Linked DNA regions of Homo sapiens. The protein of the gene in region 1 interacts with the protein of each later gene in a pairwise test. Each region holds a gene or a part of one and is shown on either strand. Other genes may lie near its edges.

The links. The genes of interacting proteins can lie anywhere in the genome.
Region 2: the proteins of PITX1 (region 1) and PLSCR3 interact in binary tests that used the Homo sapiens proteins (3 or more experiments, as listed by UniProt).
Region 3: the proteins of PITX1 (region 1) and SERPINE1 interact in binary tests that used the Homo sapiens proteins (3 or more experiments, as listed by UniProt).

What each region holds. Positions count from the first base shown.
Region 1 is NC_000005.10:135,031,225-135,038,418, reverse strand, and holds the start of PITX1 (pituitary homeobox 1), read left to right. Parts: upstream 1-4,190; 5' UTR 4,191-4,469; coding exon of another isoform or gene 4,470-4,537; coding exon 4,538-4,706; intron 4,707-4,878; exon of another isoform or gene 4,879-5,145; intron 5,146-6,910; coding exon 6,911-7,143; intron 7,144-7,194. UniProt on the Homo sapiens protein: Sequence-specific transcription factor that binds gene promoters and activates their transcription. May play a role in the development of anterior structures, and in particular, the brain and facies and in specifying the identity or structure of hindlimb.
Region 2 is NC_000017.11:7,391,510-7,398,514, reverse strand, and holds the start of PLSCR3 (phospholipid scramblase 3), read left to right. Parts: upstream 1-3,989; 5' UTR 3,990-4,038; intron 4,039-4,243; exon of another isoform or gene 4,244-4,247; 5' UTR 4,248-4,404; coding exon 4,405-4,411; intron 4,412-4,678; coding exon 4,679-4,914; intron 4,915-5,005; coding exon 5,006-5,048; intron 5,049-5,150; coding exon 5,151-5,371; intron 5,372-5,536; coding exon of another isoform or gene 5,537-5,562; coding exon 5,563-5,724; intron 5,725-7,005. UniProt on the Homo sapiens protein: Catalyzes calcium-induced ATP-independent rapid bidirectional and non-specific movement of the phospholipids (lipid scrambling or lipid flip-flop) between the inner and outer membrane of the mitochondria.
Region 3 is NC_000007.14:101,130,101-101,137,119, reverse strand, and holds part of SERPINE1 (plasminogen activator inhibitor 1 isoform 2 precursor), read right to left. Parts: intron 6,700-7,019; coding exon 6,466-6,699; intron 5,246-6,465; coding exon 5,051-5,245; intron 3,426-5,050; coding exon 3,227-3,425; intron 1,627-3,226; coding exon 1,526-1,626; intron 1,406-1,525; coding exon 1,319-1,405; coding exon of another isoform or gene 1,304-1,318; intron 141-1,303; coding exon of another isoform or gene 120-140; coding exon 36-119; intron 1-35. UniProt on the Homo sapiens protein: Serine protease inhibitor. Inhibits TMPRSS7. Is a primary inhibitor of tissue-type plasminogen activator (PLAT) and urokinase-type plasminogen activator (PLAU).

The DNA.
Region 1 (7,194 bases):
CCGTGCCCTTTCCCGGGGCTGCTTTCGGCCTCCCGCATCTCTTCCAGGGAAAGGAAAAGAGGTGGGCTGGGGCTTGGAGACCAGGCTGTCTGGACTCTAGGATGCAGAGGCCTCCAGACAGGCTCAGGGTGCTCTTCTCCCATGAAAGCAGCCGCTGGGAGGAGGAGGCTATGGTGCATCCATAAGTTGCCCCTCTGCTCCCCAGTTGTGCGACCAGCTGCTACCTCCTTCCTAGTCTTCTTCCCCACAGCTCAGCCATTCTCAGGAACCAGACAGCGTCCATGGACTTAGGTGAGAGATGGGCCGGGTAGAGCCATGGGTCCTACCAGCCGCTGACTGAGCGGCCCACGGCACAGAGTCCTGAGTTCCATACTCCCATCTGTGCCTCACTGGCGGCAGTCCTGCTCAAATACATCCTGGCTCTCCCCGGGACAGGCTGGGGATCCCCATTTGGCAGGAAGCCTCAGACTGGGGTCCCAGGAAGCCTAAAGGAGCCAGTGAGGTCTTTCCAGCCCCTACCTGAGCACCCTCCTCCCCACTTACCCAGTAATTGCTGTATTCAAAGAAACGGGAGCTTTTATTGGGGAGGGGGTGTTAGATCAGGCAGAAAGAGGTAGGTGGTCCAAACCTGCACTCCCAAAACAGGGTTTTCAAGTTTGAACTTCTCCACGGACTAAGAGGCTTAGGGCTGGAATGTCCCAGAGAGTCATGGATAGCCCTGGTGGCAGGCCATGGCACATTCCTTCCTTTTTCCTAAAATACCTTGATTCTGGGAGCAAGGATTAGGGCACGGTGCCCCCGTGGGTGGGTAGAAGGATGCCCCCCCACTGAGAGCCTTCCAACCACCCTTCCCAAATTACATTACTAAACCATTCTTGGGCACAGGGTGTTTTTAGTGAGCCAGGCTTCAGGAAGGGTCCTCATGGTGACTACTTCAACCCCACAACAGCCCAAGCTCTTCTGCTCAGCCCAGCCAAGACCCTAAACTCCAAAATTCTTGAAAATCAGAGAATCATTGCTGGCTTTGTGTGGTCACGGAGGGGTGGGGAACAGGGCACATGGTTCCAGCTCCACTAAGCCCCCTTCCCTCCTCTCTTCGTGTCCCATCAGCAAGTGAGCTGGATGCTGAAGCAGCAGGCAGAGTCCGGTGTTGGACATGGGAACTGAGGCACAGTGCAGATCAAGCCTTAACCTTGAGGGAAACACAGGTCACATAGCACAGCTGGGGGAACACAAAGCCTCTGCTTACTCCTGAAAGAGTGCTGTTTTCTGTCCTGTATGTGTGACGTGTCTGTGAGCGTGCAAGAAGCCCCTATCTTGACTGGGACAATGGCCAGTGAGTGTAGCTGGGGAAGAATTGAGAGCATGTCCAGGTCCCTTCCCCAGCCAACGCCCAAGATCAGGCCACAGCCTCCTCACAATCAATTGCCTCCTCACTCCTTGATCACTCAGTGCTGCCCAGGCCCAGCAGAACAGACTCTGCCAGCAGGCCCCACTAGCCCCAGCTCCTCTTTGGGTCTCAGGTCCCCTGAGGATATGGGGCTTCACCTGAAATGGTCTGAGGGCTTTTCCTTCTACACAGCAGGCATCAAGATCACCAAATAAAGGGACTATTGTGCCTGCCTGGAGCCCTGCCAGAGGTTTGGGCCCAGAGGGGCACACAGCAGGTGCTCAATAACTGCATTAAATGCACTAACAGTGAGGAAACACGCCCCTCAGACTAAGCAGTGAGTGCTGCTCACAGAATAGTCCCCATTGGGGGATGGCCCAAAGAGTCACTTTGGTCCCTCTGGGAAGTGAGAAGGCAAGTGAGAAGGCTGTGAGTCTTAACCTCCTCTAGAGGCCCACAGACAGACCATTCATTTCTAAGTCTCTACCCAGAGACGCACTGTGCTTCCCACCTTGGCCTGACATGTGGCAGGGTTAGAACACACCTCCTATCCCCTGCCAGCCCGCGTTCATGCCAAGTAGCACATATATGCCTAAACTCAGCACTTCCATAGTGCAGTGAATACATGTGTGTGTACAGCATCTCCGCATGGATGTACAGGATGTGTGTGTGTGTGCGTGCCCCCATGCTGTCTGCATTCAGGCTGTTCTTTTTGGTAAGACAGCTAAAAAAAGAATGGTCTGTGAAGGGACACTCCCTAGCACGCTGCAACACCTGAATATCTCCTTGAAAGGAGGGATCTTCTACTGCAGGAGACTCGTGGTAAAGGTGGCCAAGAAACATGGCAACGGTGGGGCTGAGGGCAAATGCTGGGCAACTGTGCTTCCCCATGTTCCCCTCCCCGTAGCCAAGACTCATTTCATGGAGGGAGATCTCAGCTTGGAAGAAGGCAGGAGTCACTGAGCCTCCCCAATCCAAACCCCTGAGAAGTGTCCTCCCTCTGGCCTCAGACCCTGCATCCTGTGGTCACAGACCCACAGTGAGAAAGGACCAGGCCCTAAGGAGCTGTGCTGTCTCTCCACGGCCCAGAGCGGGGGATGGGGATGGGGATGGGGATGGGGATGGGGATGGGGATGGGGGTAGGGGTGGGGGTGCTTTGGACTAACGTGGAGGGAATGGAAGGCAGGCCTGGTTCCACCCTGCATGCCCGACCCTGGCCCCAGCAGCCCCCACAAGGAGCTCAGCTGACCCTGGGTGTCTCCCTGTGATGGGAAGGGGTAAGACGAGGACTCAAAGGCAGAACCTGCAGAGTGCCCCAGACGCTGATACCTGCACAGTCAGTGCCACCCACCCAGGAGTTGAGGAGGCACTGGGTTTTGGGGTGAGGACACTGGACACCTCCCTGCTTCTTTCCCAGGCAGACAATCCTGGCGCAGCTCCCTTGGGTTGCTGTGTCTGGTGGAGCTGATCACAGGTGAGGGGCAGAGGGCAGTCTGGGGTCCGCCTATGGCCAGAGGAGCAGGTCAGGGCGGCGCCTTGCCGCCCCAGCTGTGGCCTGTTTGCTCAAGACGCTGAGGTCTCGGGGCCAGCTAACAATTGTTGAGCAAAATCCTTCGACAAACTTCACCTACGTGCAAGGACTCGAGGAGGGAATCACTCTTAGGAGTGGGAGAGTAATGTCTTTGCCTGTGCCCAGTGAAGGCCCATTGGAGCTGCAGCTCAGCTACCACTGTGTGGGAGAGAAGCTGGAAGACTGAGGGCTTCCTGGGCTGCTGGCCCAGGGTTGGGAGACAGCAGTCACCTGGCTTACCAGGCCTATGCCTGAAGCCCTGGGAAGCCAGGACGCAGGCCCCAGGCTGGGACAAAGCTACCCTGAAGGAGGGCAAAGGCTGCCAAGGCCAACCCCATGCCTGCCAAGGCCAGGCCTGGCCCATTTGGCCAAGGCCTAAGGTGTAAAACAAGGGGAGAGGTACAAGAGGCTGTGGGGTCTGGCTGGGATCCTTGGGGTCTTCCTTCTGCATTCTCCAAACGCCTAGAGCCAGCAGAAACGTTTCGTCTGATTAGAAGCCATCATTTCTATCCCAATCCCGGAAAATTGACTGCGGTGCAGAGAGGGAGGCCTGAGAAGCAGCCGTAGGGGAGAAGGTCCAAGCTAATTAGGAGGCAGCATCCGGGGGCCCATTAGAGCGCAGGCTGCTGTCACTCAGCCGGGCTGAGTTCCCGGGAGAAGAGGCTGGAGAAGGAGGGGCAGGCGGCCCCTCGACGAGGACACCGCTGGGAGCTGCCGGAACGGGCCCCGGGCTCTGCCCCCGCCCCGGCGCTGGCTCGAAGGCGCCCGCTCGGTGCGATCCTGTTCGGCAAACATTCACTCATCCTGGGCTGTTCTCGCCAGGGCTGGGGACTTCGAGGCGGCCGAGACGGGAGTTGATTCTAGGCGAAACAAGTCATTTGAGGCCTGAGGTGTGCACGAGCCGCCCGGGACTCGCAGGCCAGATGCGTTTCTTTTGTGAGGCCGAGGGAGAACTCGGTGTGTCACCGGGGAAGGAGGGAGAGGCGCGGCGAGGCCGCGGGGGGCGGGGAGGCGGCGGGAAGGTGGCTGCGGAGGGGGAGGGCGCGGGCGAGGCAGGGAGGGAGGGAGGGCGGCAGTGAGGGCGCGGCGGCGCGGGCGGCTTGGGGCTGGATTCCGCCCGCGCTCCCTCGCTCGCTCGCTCCCTCCCCAGCCCCCTCCCACCCAGGCCCACCCCACCCAGCACCCCTGGCGCAGGGACTGCTGGAACCTGGCTGTGCGCGCTGTCGCTTTAAGACAGACTCTGCCGGCGCCGTCCGGAGCCTTAGAAACCGGCCCCGGATCGCGAGCCGGAGCCGGAGCCGGAGCCGGGGCCGGCCGGGCTGCTGAGGCCCGAGCGGCAGGAGCGCAGCGCGGAGCGCTGAGCCAGGCGCCCAGTCGCGAGAAGCTGCCGCCGCCTCTGCCCGCCCGGCGCCGCAGCCCCGGGCGGTCCATGGGGCGGGCACGGCGTCGCTGCAGGCGCCGGCAGCCCTGGAGGGCAGCCGCTTAGGCGCTGCGCTCTTGTCCCCGCAGGTCGCAGCCAGGGCGGCGGGGCGCGCCCAGCCCCGGCCCCTGGAGCGCCCGCCGCGGTCCCCACCTCCATGGACGCCTTCAAGGGGGGCATGAGCCTGGAGCGGCTGCCGGAGGGGCTCCGGCCGCCGCCGCCGCCACCCCATGACATGGGGCCCGCCTTCCACCTGGCCCGGCCCGCCGACCCCCGCGAGCCGCTCGAGAACTCCGCCAGCGAGTCGTCTGACACGGAGCTGCCAGGTAAGCGCCGTTCCCCGCGCGGCGCGCACAGAGCCTACCCGGGCGCGGAGCACGGGGAGCTGGGAGCAGGGCCTGACGCCCGCGCCGCGCAACCAAGCTCCCTCTCCGCCCCAGAAGCGTCAGGAGCTTTCTTTTTCCCGTTCTCGACCTGACGGTGAACGCGGAAACTTACGCACACGCGAAGGCACTTCCACGCGGTCCCCACGCGCCAAGAGACTGGCAGATGCACGAGCCTACAGCTGGAGGGTTGGACTGACAGCCCCTCTTGATCAGGAGTAAATAGAACGGGAAAGAATTTGATTTGCGCAACTGGGCGCTAAGGAGCGGCTCGGACGAAGGGAGAGGAGGAGACCGAGAAAGGAAGAGGGGTGACGGGCGAGAGAACGCACTCAGAGAGACAGAGAGGGAGGTTAACACCGTGACAGTAGGCGACAGAATGAAAGAGACCAAAGAGAAGGGGCGGGCGGGAAGGGTAAACGGGGGGAGAGGGGTCATCAAGTAGAAGGGAGACACAGAGGACGGTGAGGGCGAGCGGGCCAACAGGCGCGGCCGGACTCCCAGCAAGGCCAGCCGGAACGCCGATCAAGGGATCCGGCCCACGTGCGCGGCCGAAGCCCGGAGCAGCCCGGCTCTGGCCCCCGCCCCGGCTCCTGCGCGTCTCCCTCCGCGCTGCCTTTTTTTGTCCGAGCTGGAGCTTTTTTCCAGCAGCGAACTGGGCCCGCGGGTGGCCGGCGCGGGCAGTGGGGCAGCGAATCCGCTGCCCAGCGCAGCCGGCCGGGTTCCGGAGGGGCTCCGAGCTCCCCGGTGTGGGCGCCTCTTCTGCGTTCATTTCTTAATACACAGCTGAATGTTTCTCTCCACTTTCTTAGTATCTGTTTCTCTTTTGCATCCCTAAGTGATTTTTCTGAGAGGTTGTTTGCTTGGTTAAAACATAATCAACGCTGAACTCTACTTTTGTTTTCAAAAGTTTTAAGCGCGGTCTTTGGTTGGTTTTATTTTTAAAACCTAGAGAGATATATAATCGTATATTGATTTTTTTGAACCAAATCTATGAGGATGAATTAATTTTAACTGTATCTTTCGATTCTGAAAGAATTAACGTACGAAGTGTAGGTCTGGAATTTAAAATATCTACATGCAACATTATTCTTCCGGAGATTTTAAAAAGTCAATCCAAAATGGCGCGTTTCTCCGGAATTTTCTCAAAATCCATTTACAGTGGTGTTATTTGGGGAATTTAAATTATCTAACTATAATGTGTTTCTCTGGGATTTAAAAATTATCTCTACAAGGGCCTTATTGGGAAGGAGTTAAAAATCTATCTACAACGGTACATTATTTTTTTAAATCCCAGAGAAATAAATGCTTCTGTCAACCTGGAGTTTATACACTTACAGCTCTGTATTTAGTTAGGGGTGTGTTTGTACGGAGCTTTCTGGCTTCTTAATTTACATTTGCTCTGTGTTTCTTCCTGTCTGATTTTGAGAATTTGTGGCCCTTTCAGTGTCTTTAGGCATAGAGCTGTGAGCTTTTCTGGGCTTCTGTGTTTTGTTTTTAAACTCTTTTTCTTTATGTATTAATGTTTCTATGACTGCGTGTGTTTTGTGTAGCTTCAAAGAGAGACAGACTAAAGCCCGAGGTCACCTAGACAGAGTCTGTCTGTCTGGGCTGCAGTTGGTGGGGTTTTCTAGGCTTTGGGACTGGAGGCCTGGAAGCAAGGCCGAGAACCCGGCTGTGTTGTGCCTGCCCAGTGGGGCTCCCATACACCCCTGAGGAGAAGAAAGTGGAGGGACTTTAGGCTGGAGAGATCTGATCCTAGTTCAGAAAAGCAGAGACCCCCTCAGATTTAGACCCCCTAAGAGTTCGCAAAACAAACAAACAAAAAGCATACATTTGCTGGGAACATCAGCAGCAGGGTCAGAATCTGAGCCGAGCTAAGGGTGCAGGCCCTGCCCAGCCAGGAACGCAGGCCCGCGGCTCCAGCTCCGATTCTTGGGCTCTTCTCCGCGGCACACCAGACTAGAGGTGCCTACTGACGACCAGCACCCGGCGGGCGCTTTCCAGTGGGGACAGTTCCCAGGAACCCTAGAGGGAGGGAGGGAGGGAAGACCGCCAGCGCTGGTGGCGAGCGGTTCGGTGGAGCCGGGACGGGGTGCAACGGGGCGTAAGCCCAGGTGACCCGCTCCCCGTCCTGCCTACTGCAGAGAAGGAGCGCGGCGGGGAACCCAAGGGGCCCGAGGACAGTGGTGCGGGAGGCACGGGCTGCGGCGGCGCAGACGACCCAGCCAAGAAGAAGAAGCAGCGGCGGCAACGTACGCACTTCACAAGCCAGCAGTTGCAAGAGCTAGAGGCCACGTTCCAGAGGAACCGCTACCCCGACATGAGCATGAGGGAGGAGATCGCCGTGTGGACCAACCTCACCGAGCCGCGCGTGCGGGTGAGCAAGGGGTGCGCGCCTAAGGGCACCCGCGCAGAGGGCTCCCGGGCC
Region 2 (7,005 bases), on another chromosome or scaffold:
CTTTGTGCAAGCTTAGTTTAGCTTCAATAGGATCACCTTGGTGAGGCCTTCCACATCTGAAGGGGCACACCCTCCACCCTCCAGCTGTTCCACCGCCTCTCTGTGCTTTTTCGTTTTGTTTGAGACAGGGTCTCGCTTTGTCACCCAGCTGTAATGCAGTGGTGCCATAAGGACTCGCTGCAGTCTCCATCTCCCAGGGTCAAGCAATTCTCTCACCTCGGCCTCCCGAGTAGCTGGGACTACAGGTGTAAGCTACCACGACTAGCTAATTATTACTTTTTTGTAGAGATGGGGTCTTGCCGGGTGCGGTGGCTCATGCCTGTAATCCCAACACTTTGGGAGGCCGAGGCGGGCAGATCACAAGTTCAGGAGTTCGAGACCAGCCTGTCCGGCATGGTGAAACCCAATCTCTACTAAAAATACAAAAATTATCAGGGTATGGTGGTGCGCACCTGTAGTCCCAGCTACTCGGGAGGCTGAGGCAGGAGAATTGCTTGAACCCAGGAGGTTCAAGAAAGAGATGAGATGGGGTCTCACCATGTCGGCTGCCTAGGCTAGTCTCGAACTGCTAGGCTCAAGCAATCCTCCTGCTTCAGCCCCCTACCCAGTTACTTGGGAGGCTACAGTGGGAGAATAGCTAGAGCTCAGGCGTTCAAGAGCAGCCTGGGCAACATAGTGAGATGCTGTCTCTAAAAAAATAAAAATATCCCAGCACTTTGGGAGGCCGAGGCAGGTGGATGACCTGAGGTCAGGAGTTCAAGAACAGCCTGGCCAAAGTGGTGAAACGCTGTCTCTACTAAAAATACAAAAATTATCTAGGTGTGGTGGCAGGCACCTGTAATCCCAGCTACTCAGGAGGCTGAGGCAGGAGAATCGCTTAAACCTGGGAGGCCATTGCACTCCAGCCTGGGCAACGAGAGCAAAACTCCATCTCAAAAATAATAATAATAATAATAAAATAATAATAATGTGGTAGTATGTGCCTGTAGTCCCAGCTTGAGGATCCCCAGGCATGAGGATAGCTTGAGCCTAAGAATTTTGTTTTGTTTTTGTTTGAGATGTAGTCTCGCTCTGTTGCCCAGGCTGGAATGCAGTGGTGCAATCTCAGCTTGCTGCAGCCTCTGCCTCCCGGGTTCAAGCGATTCTCATGCCTCAGCCTCCTGAGTAGCTGGGATTACAGGCATGTGCCAACCACGCCTGGGCAATTTTTTTGTATTTTTAGTGGAGACGGGGTTTCACTGTGTTGGCCGGGCTGGTCTCAAACTCCTGATCTTCAGTGCTCTGCCTGCCTGGGCAGAGTGGGATTAGAGATGTGAAGTACTGGAATTAGAGATGTGAGCCACTGTGCCCGGCCGAACCTAGGAGTTTGAGGCTGCAGTGATCTCTGATGGTGCCACTGCACTCCCTCCTGGGTGACGGAGCAAGACCTCAGTCTCATAAATAAATAAATAAATATGCTGGGTGTGATGGCCCACACCTGTAATCTCAGCACTTTCGGAGGCTGAGGCAGGTGTACTGTTGGAGCCCAGGAGTTGAAGACCAGCCTGGGCAACATGGCAAAACCCCATCTCTACAAAAAATACAAAAATTAGCTGGACATGGTGGCCCATGCCTGTAGTCCCAGGTACTCGGGAGGCTGAGGTGGGAGGATGCCTTGATCCTGGGAAACAGAAGTTGTAATGAGTGGAGATCATGCCACTGTATTCCAGCCTGGGCAACAGAGCAAGACCCTGTCTCAATAAACAAACAAACAAACAAACAAACAAACCCTTAGAGGGGACCTCCAGAGTGGCCCAAAGGGGCTGGGTGCAGTAGCTCATGCCTGTAATCCCAACACTTTGGGAGGCCAAGGTGTAAGGATCACTTGAGGCCAAGAGTTCCAGACCGGCCTGGCCAACATGCAGAAACCCTGTCTCTACTAAAAATACAAAAATTAGCCGGGTGTGGTGGCTGTAGTCCTGGCTGCTTGGGAGGCTGAGGCAGAAGAATTGCTTGAGCCTGGGAGGTGGAGGTTGCAGTGAGCCAAGATAGCGCCACTGCACTCCAGCCTGGGTGGCAGAGTGAGACTCTCAAAAAAACAGAAAAACCAGAGTGACCCAAAGGTCCAGTGGCAGAGCCAAGGCTGGGTCTGTAGGCTCCTTCCTCCCAGTCCAGTGCTCTCACTGCATTTCCATCCTTCACCTCAGGTGGCATCTAGGGCACAGGGGGAACCTCCACATGGAGAACCACTGCAGTACGTCTCACGTCTCTTCTCTGTCCAGACCCTCCAACATTTCCCATCTCAGGGTATAATTCAGTGGACTAAAAGGCCATGCGTGACCTGGCTTCTTGTGACCCCTCTGACCTTCCCCTCATTAACTCCATTCCAGTCTCACTGGTCTTCTGCCTCAGGACCTATGCCCTTGCTGTTCCCTCTGCCTGAAACACTTACCCAGTAATCTGCACAGCTCAGTCCCTCATCTCCTTTAGGTTCTGGGTCAACTATCATCTTCTTTCTTTCTTTCTTTCTTTTCTTTCTTTTTTTTTTTTGAGACGGAGTCTTGCTTTGTCGCCAGGCTGGAGTGCAGTGGCAAGATCTCAGCTCACTACAACCTCTGCCTCCCAGGTTCAAGCGATTCCCCTGCCTCAGCCTCCCGAGTAGCTGGGACTACAAGCGCCCGCCACCACACCTGGCTAATTTTTTTGTATTTTAGTAGAGACGGGGTTTCACCATATTGGCCAGGATGGTCTCCATCTCCTGACCTCATGATTCGCCTGCCTCGGCCTCCCAAAGTGCTGGGATTACAGGCGTGAGCCACCGTGCCCGGCCTAACTATCGCCTTATTGGTGATGCCTTCGCCTTATTGGTGATGTCTAAATAAATATTTATTTATTTATTTATTTATTTTGAGATGGAGTCTCGCTCTGTTGCCCAGGCTGGAGTGCAATGGCGTAATCTCGGCTCACTGCAACCTCTGCCTCCCGGGTTCAAGAGTTTCTCCTACCTCAGCCTCCTGCATAGCTGGGACTACAGGCGCCCGCCACCACACCCGGCTAATTTTTGTATTTTTAGTAGAGATGGGTTTTTGCCATGTTGGCCAGGCTGGTCTCAAACTCCTGACCTCAGGTGATCCGCCCACCTCGGCCTCCCAAAGTGCTGGAATTACAGGCGTGAGCCACCGCGCCCCGCCACGATCTTTCTAAAACACACATTTGACCTTCTTTGTTCTAAAAATGTCTCGGTGGACTCCTCGCTGCTCGTGGGGCCAAATCGCAGCTTCCACACAACCCGCCCTGTATGTGGACTGCACTCCGTTTCTAAACTCATCTCTTGCGCCACTCAGCCAGTGGCCCCCAAGGCAGGACTGGTCCTGGCTCAGGATCCAGTCGAAGACACTCATCTCGGGGGTCTTTTCTGACCGCGCTTCCTCCTCTGGCCCTCTAGGCGGCCTGAGCACGCTCACTGACACCGTTTGGCGGCCTGTCACCCGCGTGGCTGGGGCACCTGCAGAAACTGCTGTCGCTGCGAGGTGCCCGTGTGGGTCACCGCTGTGCCAGGGAGAGAAGACGGCGAGGTCGCCCCTGGGAGGCAGAAGGCGAGCCAGGAGCCAGTCCTGGAAGCCAATGAGTGAGTGTGAAGGGTGTTCCGCTGCGTCAGCGAGGCCCGACTGCCCTTGGGAGGAGGAGCCCAGGGGCCAGCGCGGCCCGGGCCGCCCTCGCCTCCCACCCAGGGCGCTGAGCACGCACGCCGCCGGCCTGGCGGCGTTCGCGGGGCCCGGGACCAGCCGCCGCCTTCTCCAGGCGCTCCTACTCTCTGGGCATCTGCAGTCCGAGCGGAAGGGGCGGGAACGTCGGCGACGCCGAGGAGCAAAGCCCACGATCGGCTTCCCGGGGCAGCGGACGGCTGCCTTCCTCCCGGCGCAAACGCACCGCCCAGGAGGGGGCGGGCTCGGCGGGTCGGGGGGCGGGGCCGGGGTCCGAGCTCGGGCCCGCCTCCGCCTCCGCCAGCTCCTGTGAGCTGCCGAGTGCTAGGCACCCGGGCTCTTCTGGGGGCTCCAGGTGAGCGGGGGCACAGAGGGGTCAGGGAGACCGCCCTTGGGGTGGGGCTGTCGGTCTGACCGCGGGTCCATCTGTCCTGCCGTCGGCCCACAGCCTCCTCCGCAGGATGGGAGAACAAAGGGAGGGGGCGGTTCTGGGGCCCCCGAGGGAATCCAGGGTCCCAGGTACCCGGTCCCGCCCACTGACACTTGGGTTTCTCCCCGAGTCAGAGGCGCCGCCCAAGAGACCCTGGGCCGGCGCCGGGCGCAGCTGCCTCTCCGTCTTTGTGTCTGTCTCTGTGTCTGTCTGGCTATCTCCGAGTTTGCCTCCGCTTCCAGAACTAAGCCACCCAGACACCATCATCTCGAAAACCCCAGCCCTTCTCCCATGGCAGGTAAGTGCGCGCAAGTCTGGGGGTCTCCGTTATCCCCCCCACGGACTTGGGAGCCGGGTTTGAACACATCCTCCCGGAATGTGCTCGGACTGGCTGGGTGGGGCCCCTCCCTTCCTTCCGGGGAACCTCCACCCTGCTCCCCTGCCCCATCTTTCTCTGCCTCTTGCCACCACGTTTCCCCCGAAGCCTCGCGGCCCATGGGCTGAGGAATAAGGGGATGAGGCCTTGAGTCCCTTTCTAATCTATCCTGCTCCCACCGCTTTACAGGCTACTTGCCCCCCAAAGGCTACGCCCCTTCGCCCCCACCTCCCTACCCTGTCACCCCTGGGTACCCGGAGCCGGCGCTACATCCTGGGCCCGGGCAGGCGCCAGTGCCCGCCCAGGTACCTGCCCCAGCTCCCGGCTTCGCCCTCTTCCCCTCGCCTGGCCCCGTGGCCTTGGGGTCTGCTGCCCCCTTCTTGCCACTGCCAGGGGTGCCTTCTGGCCTCGAATTCCTGGTGCAGGTGAGTGGGAAGGAGGGAGGGAGGATGACTGGGAGGGGACTTGGGCGTCCAGATGGGCCAGCTGATGTGCGCGCCGCCCCTCTCTTTCCAGATTGATCAGATTTTGATTCACCAGAAGGCTGAGCGAGTGGAAAGTAAGTAGAAGGAGTGGGAGGTTGGACCTCATGATGGTGGCCCGGATGGTGGGCTCCTGGGCGCGCGAGGCTCTACGAGTCTCCCCGTGTCACCTCGGGCAGCGTTCCTAGGCTGGGAGACCTGTAATCGGTATGAACTGCGCTCTGGGGCCGGGCAGCCCCTGGGTCAGGCGGCCGAGGAGAGCAACTGCTGCGCCCGTCTGTGCTGTGGCGCCCGCCGGCCGCTGCGTGTCCGCCTGGCCGACCCCGGGGACCGTGAGGTGCTGCGTTTGCTCCGCCCGCTGCACTGTGGCTGCAGCTGCTGCCCCTGTGGCCTCCAGGAGGTGGGCGGAGGGAGGGGGCCGGGAGGGCGGGCCTTGGTGGGGCGGGACAATGATGAGGTCCACCTGAGATGAGGCCTGGATCAGGTGGGAGTGGGCAGGTGGGGATGGGAGGTTTAGTGAGGGCCAAATAGACAGATGATAGAGCTGGGACCCCTGCCTCCGCAGTGACCCTGTCTGCTTCCCACTCCCAGATGGAAGTACAGGCTCCACCAGGCACCACCATTGGCCACGTGCTACAGACCTGGCATCCCTTCCTCCCCAAGTTCTCCATCCAGGATGCCGATCGCCAGACAGTCTTGCGAGTGGTGGGGCCCTGCTGGACCTGTGGCTGTGGCACAGACACCAACTTTGAGGTATCAGGAATACTAGAGGCTCTTGGGACCTTCGTAAACCAAGATGATGCTTCCATGAGGCAGGATAGTTAACATTAAGGTCAAGACCCTGAGCTCATCAATCCAAATCCACTGTGACTCCGACCGCATTTGTAGCATTCCTCCATTTGGAAATAGGATGGCCCTGTGCTCTTATAAAAGCATAACAACGAGGATTTCATCTTAAGGAGCAATGCTGATTATTACAAGTGGCCCTGAGATGGGCAGAAAAAAAATCTAAGGCCAGCCTGGATTTGGGGTGAAGGACGATTAAGTCTGTGTGGGCCGGGCCCATGTGGCTGCTGTGTATGAGTGTGTGAGCCCAGGCCCTGGAGCAAGCACGATTTTAACATGTTAACATCCTGTGGCCTGCCCTGCTAAAATAGAATCCAAATGCCCCTGCCATTCCGAAATCCAGTATATCCTTCTCACTGTGCATTCCTGTCACCAGTCTGGAAGCTAGAGATCCCAAGTGGCAAGAATTTCAGAGTGAGGTGAGGCCTGGGAAGCACCTTGGTTTCTAGAAGACAAAGGCACTCCACAGACCCTTGAGTTCTTTTTTTGTTTGTTTTTTGTTTGTTTGTTTTGAGACAGAGTCTTGCTCTTGTTGCCCAGGTGGGAGTGCTATGGCATGATCTCAGCTCACTGCAGTCTTTGCCTCCCGGGTTCAAGCAATTCTCCTGCCTAAACCTCCCGAGTAGCTAGGATTACAGGCATGCGCCGCCATGCCTGGCTAATTTTATATTTTTAGTAGAGACGAGGTTTCTCCATGTTGGTCAGGCTGGTCTCGAACTCCTGACCTCAGGTGATCCGCCCACCTCAGCCTCCCAAAGTGCTGGGATTACAGGCGTGAGCCACCGCACCTGACCGACCCTTGAGTTCTTTAAGGGATAATTGCTTGTGCAGATAAGGGAGAAACAACAGGTATAATCCAGTAGACTTTCCAACGCTTCTAATGAGGTACCCTACCTAAGGTTACTTTGCAAAAATGAGTCACCTTGGTAGCCAGAGGGAGATTCCATGATGAGAACCAATTGGGAATAAGATATAATAACTGCGTGATCTCCAGATGGGAATGTATAGGCTGTGGGGTTCTCATAGGGCCAGTGTCCCTTTTGCATAATTATAAATGGTCCATACTTGGGGCTGTACCCTTAGGACCATGGCAGGAAGTGCCCCAGAGCTGTAGGACAGTGCAGGAAGGGGATGGGAATGGCACAAAAGGAAATCACTGCAGTTCTAATCACTGGAGAACGAGCACAG
Region 3 (7,019 bases), on another chromosome or scaffold:
GGGAGGATGTGGAACGTGATGGGTTCCAGGCTCACCTGTGGGGTTGTGCCGGACCACAAAGAGGAAGGGTCTGTCCATGATGATCTCCTCGGGGGCCATGCGGGCTGAGACTATGACAGCTGCAAGAGAAGGGACAATGTCTTAGAACAGAGGGATGCTGGCACTGGCACCACCCCCACCCCCGCCGTTTTTCTTAGAGACAGGGTCTCCCTCTGTCGCCCAGGTGGGAGTGCAGTGGCACCTTCATGGCTCACTGCAGCCTTGAACTCATGGGCTCAAGTGATCCTCCCACCTCAGTCTCCCAAGTAACTGGGGCTACAGGTGCATGCCACCATGCCTGGCTAATTTTTTTCTAATTTTTGTAGAGACACAGTCTCATTATATTGCCCAGGCTGGTCTCAAATTCCTGGGCTCAAGCGATCCTCCTGCCTCGGCCTCCCAAAGTGCTGGGATTACAGGTGTGAGCCACTAAGCCCAGCTGGAAGTTGTTTGTTTTCCTGAATATGAACCTTAAAAGTTTAGGGACATCCTCTGAGACCTGGTTTCCTCCAGGAGCTTGGTAGCAATGGATCAGCTCTTCCCTTACACACATTTATCTAAATCCTTTAAGGGCTTATTGATAAGCTCTTTCTTTTCTTTTCTTCTCTTTCTTTCTCTTTCTTTCTTTCTTTCTTTCTTTCTTTCTTTCTTTCTTTCTTTCTTTCTTTCTTTCTTTTCTCTCTCTCTCTCTTTCTTTCTTTCTTTTCTTCAGAGTCATGCTCTATTGCCCAGGCTGGAGTGCAGCAGCGTGATCTCGGCTCACTGCAACCTCTGCCTCCTGGATTCAAGTGATTCTCCTGCCTCAGCCTCCCAAGTAGCTGGGACTACAGGCACATGCCACCACGCCTGCCTAATTTTTGTATTTTTAGTAGAGATAGGGTTTTGCCATGTTGCCCAGGCTGGTCTCGAATTCCTGACCTCAAGTGATCCACCTGCCTTGGTCCCCCAAAGCGCTGGGATTACAGGTGGGAGCCACCATGCCCAGCCTGATAAGCATGTTTCTTAAGTTTACTTCCCACTGTGGGAACAACTTGGGTTTTTCTTTAGGAGGCCTTTTCACAGTCAGGGAACTTAGGAGCCATCAGGCGAGGAAACAGGGTTCCATGGTCCCAAGCCCGTTTTCCAGGCTGAGAAACAGGTGGGGAGTGGGTGATGGCTGAGCACAGACAGAGCTGCTCTGTGCCGAGAGGGCTGCGGGGTCCTTTCCGGGTCTGGGGACCAGTTATCCTGAAGGGCGATGGAGGCGACACCCGTGGAGCCTCACCTGAGCCAGACTCACCTGTGGATGAGGAGGCCACCGTGCCACTCTCGTTCACCTCGATCTTCACTTTCTGCAGCGCCTGCGCGACGTGGAGAGGCTCTTGGTCTGAAACAGATGTGGATACAGGATTAGATCAGCTGCCGCTCTCAAGGAGAGGTTCCTTTTTCCTCTTAGGGGCCCCCGCAGTCCACTGGGGTGAGAAAATGCAAAGGAAAGTCTTCTTACCTGAAAGACTCGTGAAGTCAGCCTGAAACTGTCTGAACATGTCGGTCATTCCCAGGTTCTCTAGGGGCTTCCTGAGGTCGACTTCAGTCTCCAGGGAGAACCTGCAGATAGCAGCAAGAGGCTGCTCAAGCCGGGGTCCCCTCTGGCTGGCAGCTCCCACCTTTCCCCATCCCCTACCAGGTGTCCCCCGAATCAAGTGGCCAGAATAGGGACGGAGGTGAAGGTTGGAGAGGGAGGCCTGGTTCGTTCGTTCTTTCTTTCCTTTCTTTTTCTTTCTTTCTTTCTTTCTTTCTTTCTTTCTTTCTTTCTTTCTTTCTTTCTTTCTTTCTTTCTCTCTCTCTCTTTCTTTCTCTCTCTCTTCTTTCCTTTCCTTTCCTTCCTTCCTTCCTATTTTTCTTTTTTTTTTTTTGAAACAGATTCTTGCTCTGTCCCCCAGGCTGGAGTGCAGTGGCGTGATCTCGGCTCACTGCAGCCTCCACCTCCCAGGTTCATGTGATTCTCTGGCCTCAGCCTCCGGAGTAGCTGGGATCATAGGCGCTCGCTACCACGGCTGGCTAATTTTTGTATTTTTAATAGAGACAGGGTTTCACCATGTTGGCCAGGCTGGTCTCAAACTCCTGACCTCAAGTGATCCGCCCGCCTTGGCCTCCCCAAATGCTGAGATTACAGGCATGAGCCACCACACCCAGCCGGCCTGGTTCTTCTTCTAAAGCTGTTTACAAAGTCCCCCCTTAGAGCTGAAAATCCTAATATTCATGAACATTCTTCTGCAATCTCCCCACCCCCTCCCACCTATGACTAATTACTTTCCTCAAATAAGACAGTAGTTTCAGCATAATTTTATTCAGCCTGGCTGGGGTGGGGGAAGCTAAGGGCAAATTCTCCTGCAAGGATGTTGGAACAAAAATCTGTTCTGCAGATTGTGTTTCTGAGAGCTAACCCTGAAGAGGACTCAAGCAGGGGGCCTTTGTGCACTCTCTGCTTCTCACCAGGGCACAACTAATTACCTCCATTTTTATGAGCCAGAGAGAGAGGAGAAAAAAAAAAAAGAGGAAGAGAGAGGATGCAAGTGAGAGCACGCACCAGCTAACCAACTAAATTCTCCTCTTTCCCCAAGCCTGGCATTATAGCATCCGGAAATTTGGGATGAGCGTGGTGGGAGGCTTCCCTATAATTCTGGAGTTCCCCAGCTCCAGCCTTCTCCTTCTGCAGAAAGATTTCAAAAAATCTCTTTGCTTCCTTCTGCAGAAGGATTTCGAAAAATCTGCTTTCTTGGAACCCCAGCTAGAAGCTGCGCTTTGAGCTGCTCCGTCCTTGGAAGTGATTTCTTTTGTTTGGATGTTGACTTGAAAGGGTTGGGGATGGAAGTGCTGATGGGGCGACCCTAAGTAGATGTGGACTGATTGGGCCCCCACCTCCCTCATTTCTCTGACTCTCCTTTTGGGGGCTTTTGCTGGGTATTCTGGGGATAGTCAATGTGGGGGTGTGGTCAGGAAGAGCTGTCCCCTGCCCTCCAGCAGAAACAGGGGGAGGGATGATTGCAAGACTCATAATCAAACCCAGGCCACAGTTTCCCATCAGCCTCCCACACATGCATGTCCTGCAAGCATCACAGATCTGGGAAATTCAACCTGGGGGCGGTGACTTTAGGGAGCCAGGAGAGAGGGGTTGGTAGGTCGGGGAGATAGCGGGGTGGCTTACTTGGGCAGAACCAGGAGGCGGGGCAGCCTGGTCATGTTGCCTTTCCAGTGGCTGATGAGCTGGGCACTCAGAATGTTGGTGAGGGCAGAGAGAGGCACCTCTTTTTCATAAGGGGCAGCAATGAACATGCTGAGGGTGTCCCCGTGGTAGGGCAGTTCCAGGATGTCGTAGTAATGGCCATCGGGCGTGGTGAACTCAGCTGTGAAGACGACAAGATGGTTCGTTGGAAATGGCTCCAGCTCTCGCTGATGGCAACCCAGCACTGGGTTTTCACCTAGTTCTCCTGGCTTCTCCACTATTTCTGGAAGCCAGGCTCTCTCTCGCTCTTGGCTTTTGGGTATCCCCTGTTCACTGCTCCCCTATTCAGTATTTTAATTTCTATTTCCCTTCTCTTCTGCCAATTCAGTATCTTCTAATTTCTCTCTCTCTGTGTGTGTGCATGTGTGTGTGTGTGTGTGTGTGTGTAAGAGACAGGGTCTCACTGTCACACAGACTGGAGCGCAGTGGTGCAATCATAGCTCACTGCAGCCTCCGAATCCGGTTCAAATGTTCCTCCCGCCTCAGCTTCTGTATTTTGTTTGTTTGTTTGTTTGTTTGTTTTGAGAAGGAGTCTCACTCTGTCGCCCAGGCTGGAGTGCAATGGCATGATCTCGGCTCACTGCAACCTCCCCCTCCCGGGTTCAATAGATTCTCCCACCTCAGCCTCCTGAGTAGCTGGAATTACAGGCACCTGCTATCATGCCCAGCTAATTTTTGTATTTTTATACAGATGGGGTTTCACCATGTTGGCCAGGCTGGTCTTGAACTCCTGACCTCAGGTCATCCACCCGCCTTGACCTCCCAAAGTGCTGGGAATACAGGCGTGAGCCACCGTGCCTGGCCTCACCTCAGCTTCTTGAGTAGACTACAGATGCATGTCACCAAGCCTGGCTAATTAAAAAAAATTTTTTTTTTGTAGAGGCAGGGTCTTGCTATGCTGCCCAGACTGGTATTCAACTTCTGGCCTCAAGCAATCCCCCTTCTCAGCCTCCCAAAGTGCTGGGATTATAGGCGTGAGTCGCCGCGCCAGGCCTTCTCTGTCTCTTTTGGCCTTCCTTCACTTCCATTTTCCCCACACCCAGCCACCAGTTCATCCCAGTCCTCATCCTTTTTTTTTTTTTTTTTTTTTTGAATGGAATTTCACTCTTTTGCCCAGGCTGGGGTGAAGTGGCTCAATTTCGTTCGGCTCACTGCAACCTCCACCTCCCGGGCTCAAGTGATTCTCCTGCCTCAGCCTCCCGAGTAGCTGGGATTACAGGCGCCTGCCACCACACCTGGCTAATTTTTGCATTTTTAGTAGAGACAGGGTTTCACCATGTTGGCCAGGCTGGTCTCAAACTCCTGACCTCAAACTCCTGATCCACCTGCCTTGGCCTCCCAAAGTGCTGGGATTACAGGCGTGAGCCACAGCACCTGGAGTCCTCATCCTCTTAACCTCAACTCCCCCAGCAGGATTTCTCATCCCCAGGTAATCACACTAGCAACACACGAAGATGAGACCCTGGAGTCAGGTGGACAAATGTGGCCCTGAGGGAATCTCTGGATTTCAGCTTCTTCATCCTTCATGGGATAAACCTCCTGTCTTCTGTTCCCATTATCCTGATGTCTCCTGCTTGGGAAATCTTTGTCAAAGCTGGAGTATATTCTAGGGTCTCTCCTCCCTTAAAGGGGAGCATTCCCTGTGGTCTTCCTCCCTCAGAGGGTGACATTTTGGGTATTCCTTGGGAGACCCCAGGAATGAGATGCAGTTGCTGTGGGCTGTGGGGAAGGGGCTCTTGGACTTACTATAGTTGAACTTGTTGGTCTGAGCCATCATGGGCACAGAGACAGTGCTGCCGTCTGATTTGTGGAAGAGGCGGCGGTGGGTGCTGGAGTCGGGGAAGGGAGTCTTCCACTGGCCGTTGAAGTAGAGGGCATTCACCAGCACCAGCCGTGTCAGCTGGTCCACGGCTCCTTTCCCAAGCAAGTTGCTGATCATACCTATGGGAAAATCAATGATCAGGAAGATCAGGAAGTTAGACGATTTTGTTGTTGTTGTTGTTGTTGTTTTGAGATGGAGTCTCACTCTATTGCCAGGCTGGAGTGCAGTGGCGCGATCTCGGCTCGCTGCAACCTCTGTCTCCGGGGTTCAAGCAATTCTCCTGCCTCAGCCTCCCGAATAGCTGGGATTACAGGCGCCTGCCACCATGCCTGGCTAATTTTTGTATTTTTAGTAGAGACGGGGTTTCACCATGTTGGTCAGGCTCGTCTCAAACTCCTGACCTTTTGATCCACCTGCCTTAGCCTCCCAAAGTGCTGGGATTACAGGTGTGAGCCACCATGCCCGGCTGAAGTTAGACAAAGTTTTTAAGCCTTTTAGATGTTTCCCGGAGTCCCCAGTCCTCAATTGGATGTATGTCAAAGGGCTGCAGTCAGGGGTTTAAATGAACCCGTCTAGTTCCTTTTTTTGGAGACAAAGTCTTGCTCTGTCACCCAGGCTGGAGTGCAGTGGCATGATCTCAGCTCACTGCAGCCTCTGCCTCCCGGGTTCAAGTGATTCTTTGAACCTCATCCTCCCGAGCAGCTGGGATTATAGGCATGCGCCAACACACCTGGCTAATTTTTTGTATTTTTGACAGAGACAGGGTTTCACCATGTTGGCCAGGCTGGTCTCGAACTCCTGTGCTCAGGCAATCTGCCCGCCTTGGCCTCTCAAAGTGCTAGGATTAGAGGCGTGAGCCACCGTGCCCAGCCTAAGATTTGGTTCTTAAAGCATCCAGCCCTTTGTCCATAGAGAAGAGAATGCTGAAAAGGAGCATTTTTTAGGATATGTGGATTTGGTTTTTGTTTGTTTTTTAGAGATGAGGTCTTGTTCTGTGACCCAGGCTGGAGTGTGGTGGTGCAAACATAGCTCACTGCAGCCTTGAACTGCTGGACTCAAGTGATCCTCCCACCTCAGCCTCCCAAGTAGCTGGGACTACAGGTGTGCACCACCATGCCCGGCTGGTTTTTAAATTTTTTGAAGAGATGAGGTCTTGTTATGTTGGCCAGGCTGGTCTCAAACTCCAGGCCTCAAGCCTTCCTCTCGCCTAGACCTCCCAAAGTGTTGGGCTGGGATTACAGGTGTGAACTACTGCACCCAACTGGGATATGTGGATTTATTTCCAAATTCCCTTTCTCTTGAGGCCCAGGAAATGGGTTTCCTTTCCCTGCCTGCTCACCTTTTGTGTGTGTCTTCACCCAGTCATTGATGATGAATCTGGCTCTCTCCACCTCTGAAAAGTCCACTTGCTTGACCGTGCTCCGGAACAGCCTGAAGAAGTGGGGCATGAAGCCCTGGACCAGCTTCAGATCCCGCTGGACGAAGATCGCGTCTGTGGTGCTGATCTCATCCTTGTTCCATGGCCCCATGAGCTCCTTGTACAGATGCCGGAGGGCGGGGGCCATGCCCTTGTCTGCACCGGGACAGAGAGGAGAGGACATGTGAGGCTTATGCTGAATTGAGGGTTCCCAGCCGAGCCCACTTCCCCCACAAGGGGCTCCACTCTGATGGATGGGGGCTACCGTGCTTTCCCAGGGCTCTCTGGAGGGAGATTTCATTCCAGGATGAAATCTCTTTTCTGTATCTCCTTCCTTTCTTCAAAAGTCTCAGATCCCAACCCTTTCTTTGGGCTAGAATATTTTTCTCTGTTCTTAAATTATGAACCCTAAATATTTTCTTCCTGTTTTTTTTTTTTTTTTTTTTTTGAGTTGGAGTTTTGCTCTTGTCTCCCAG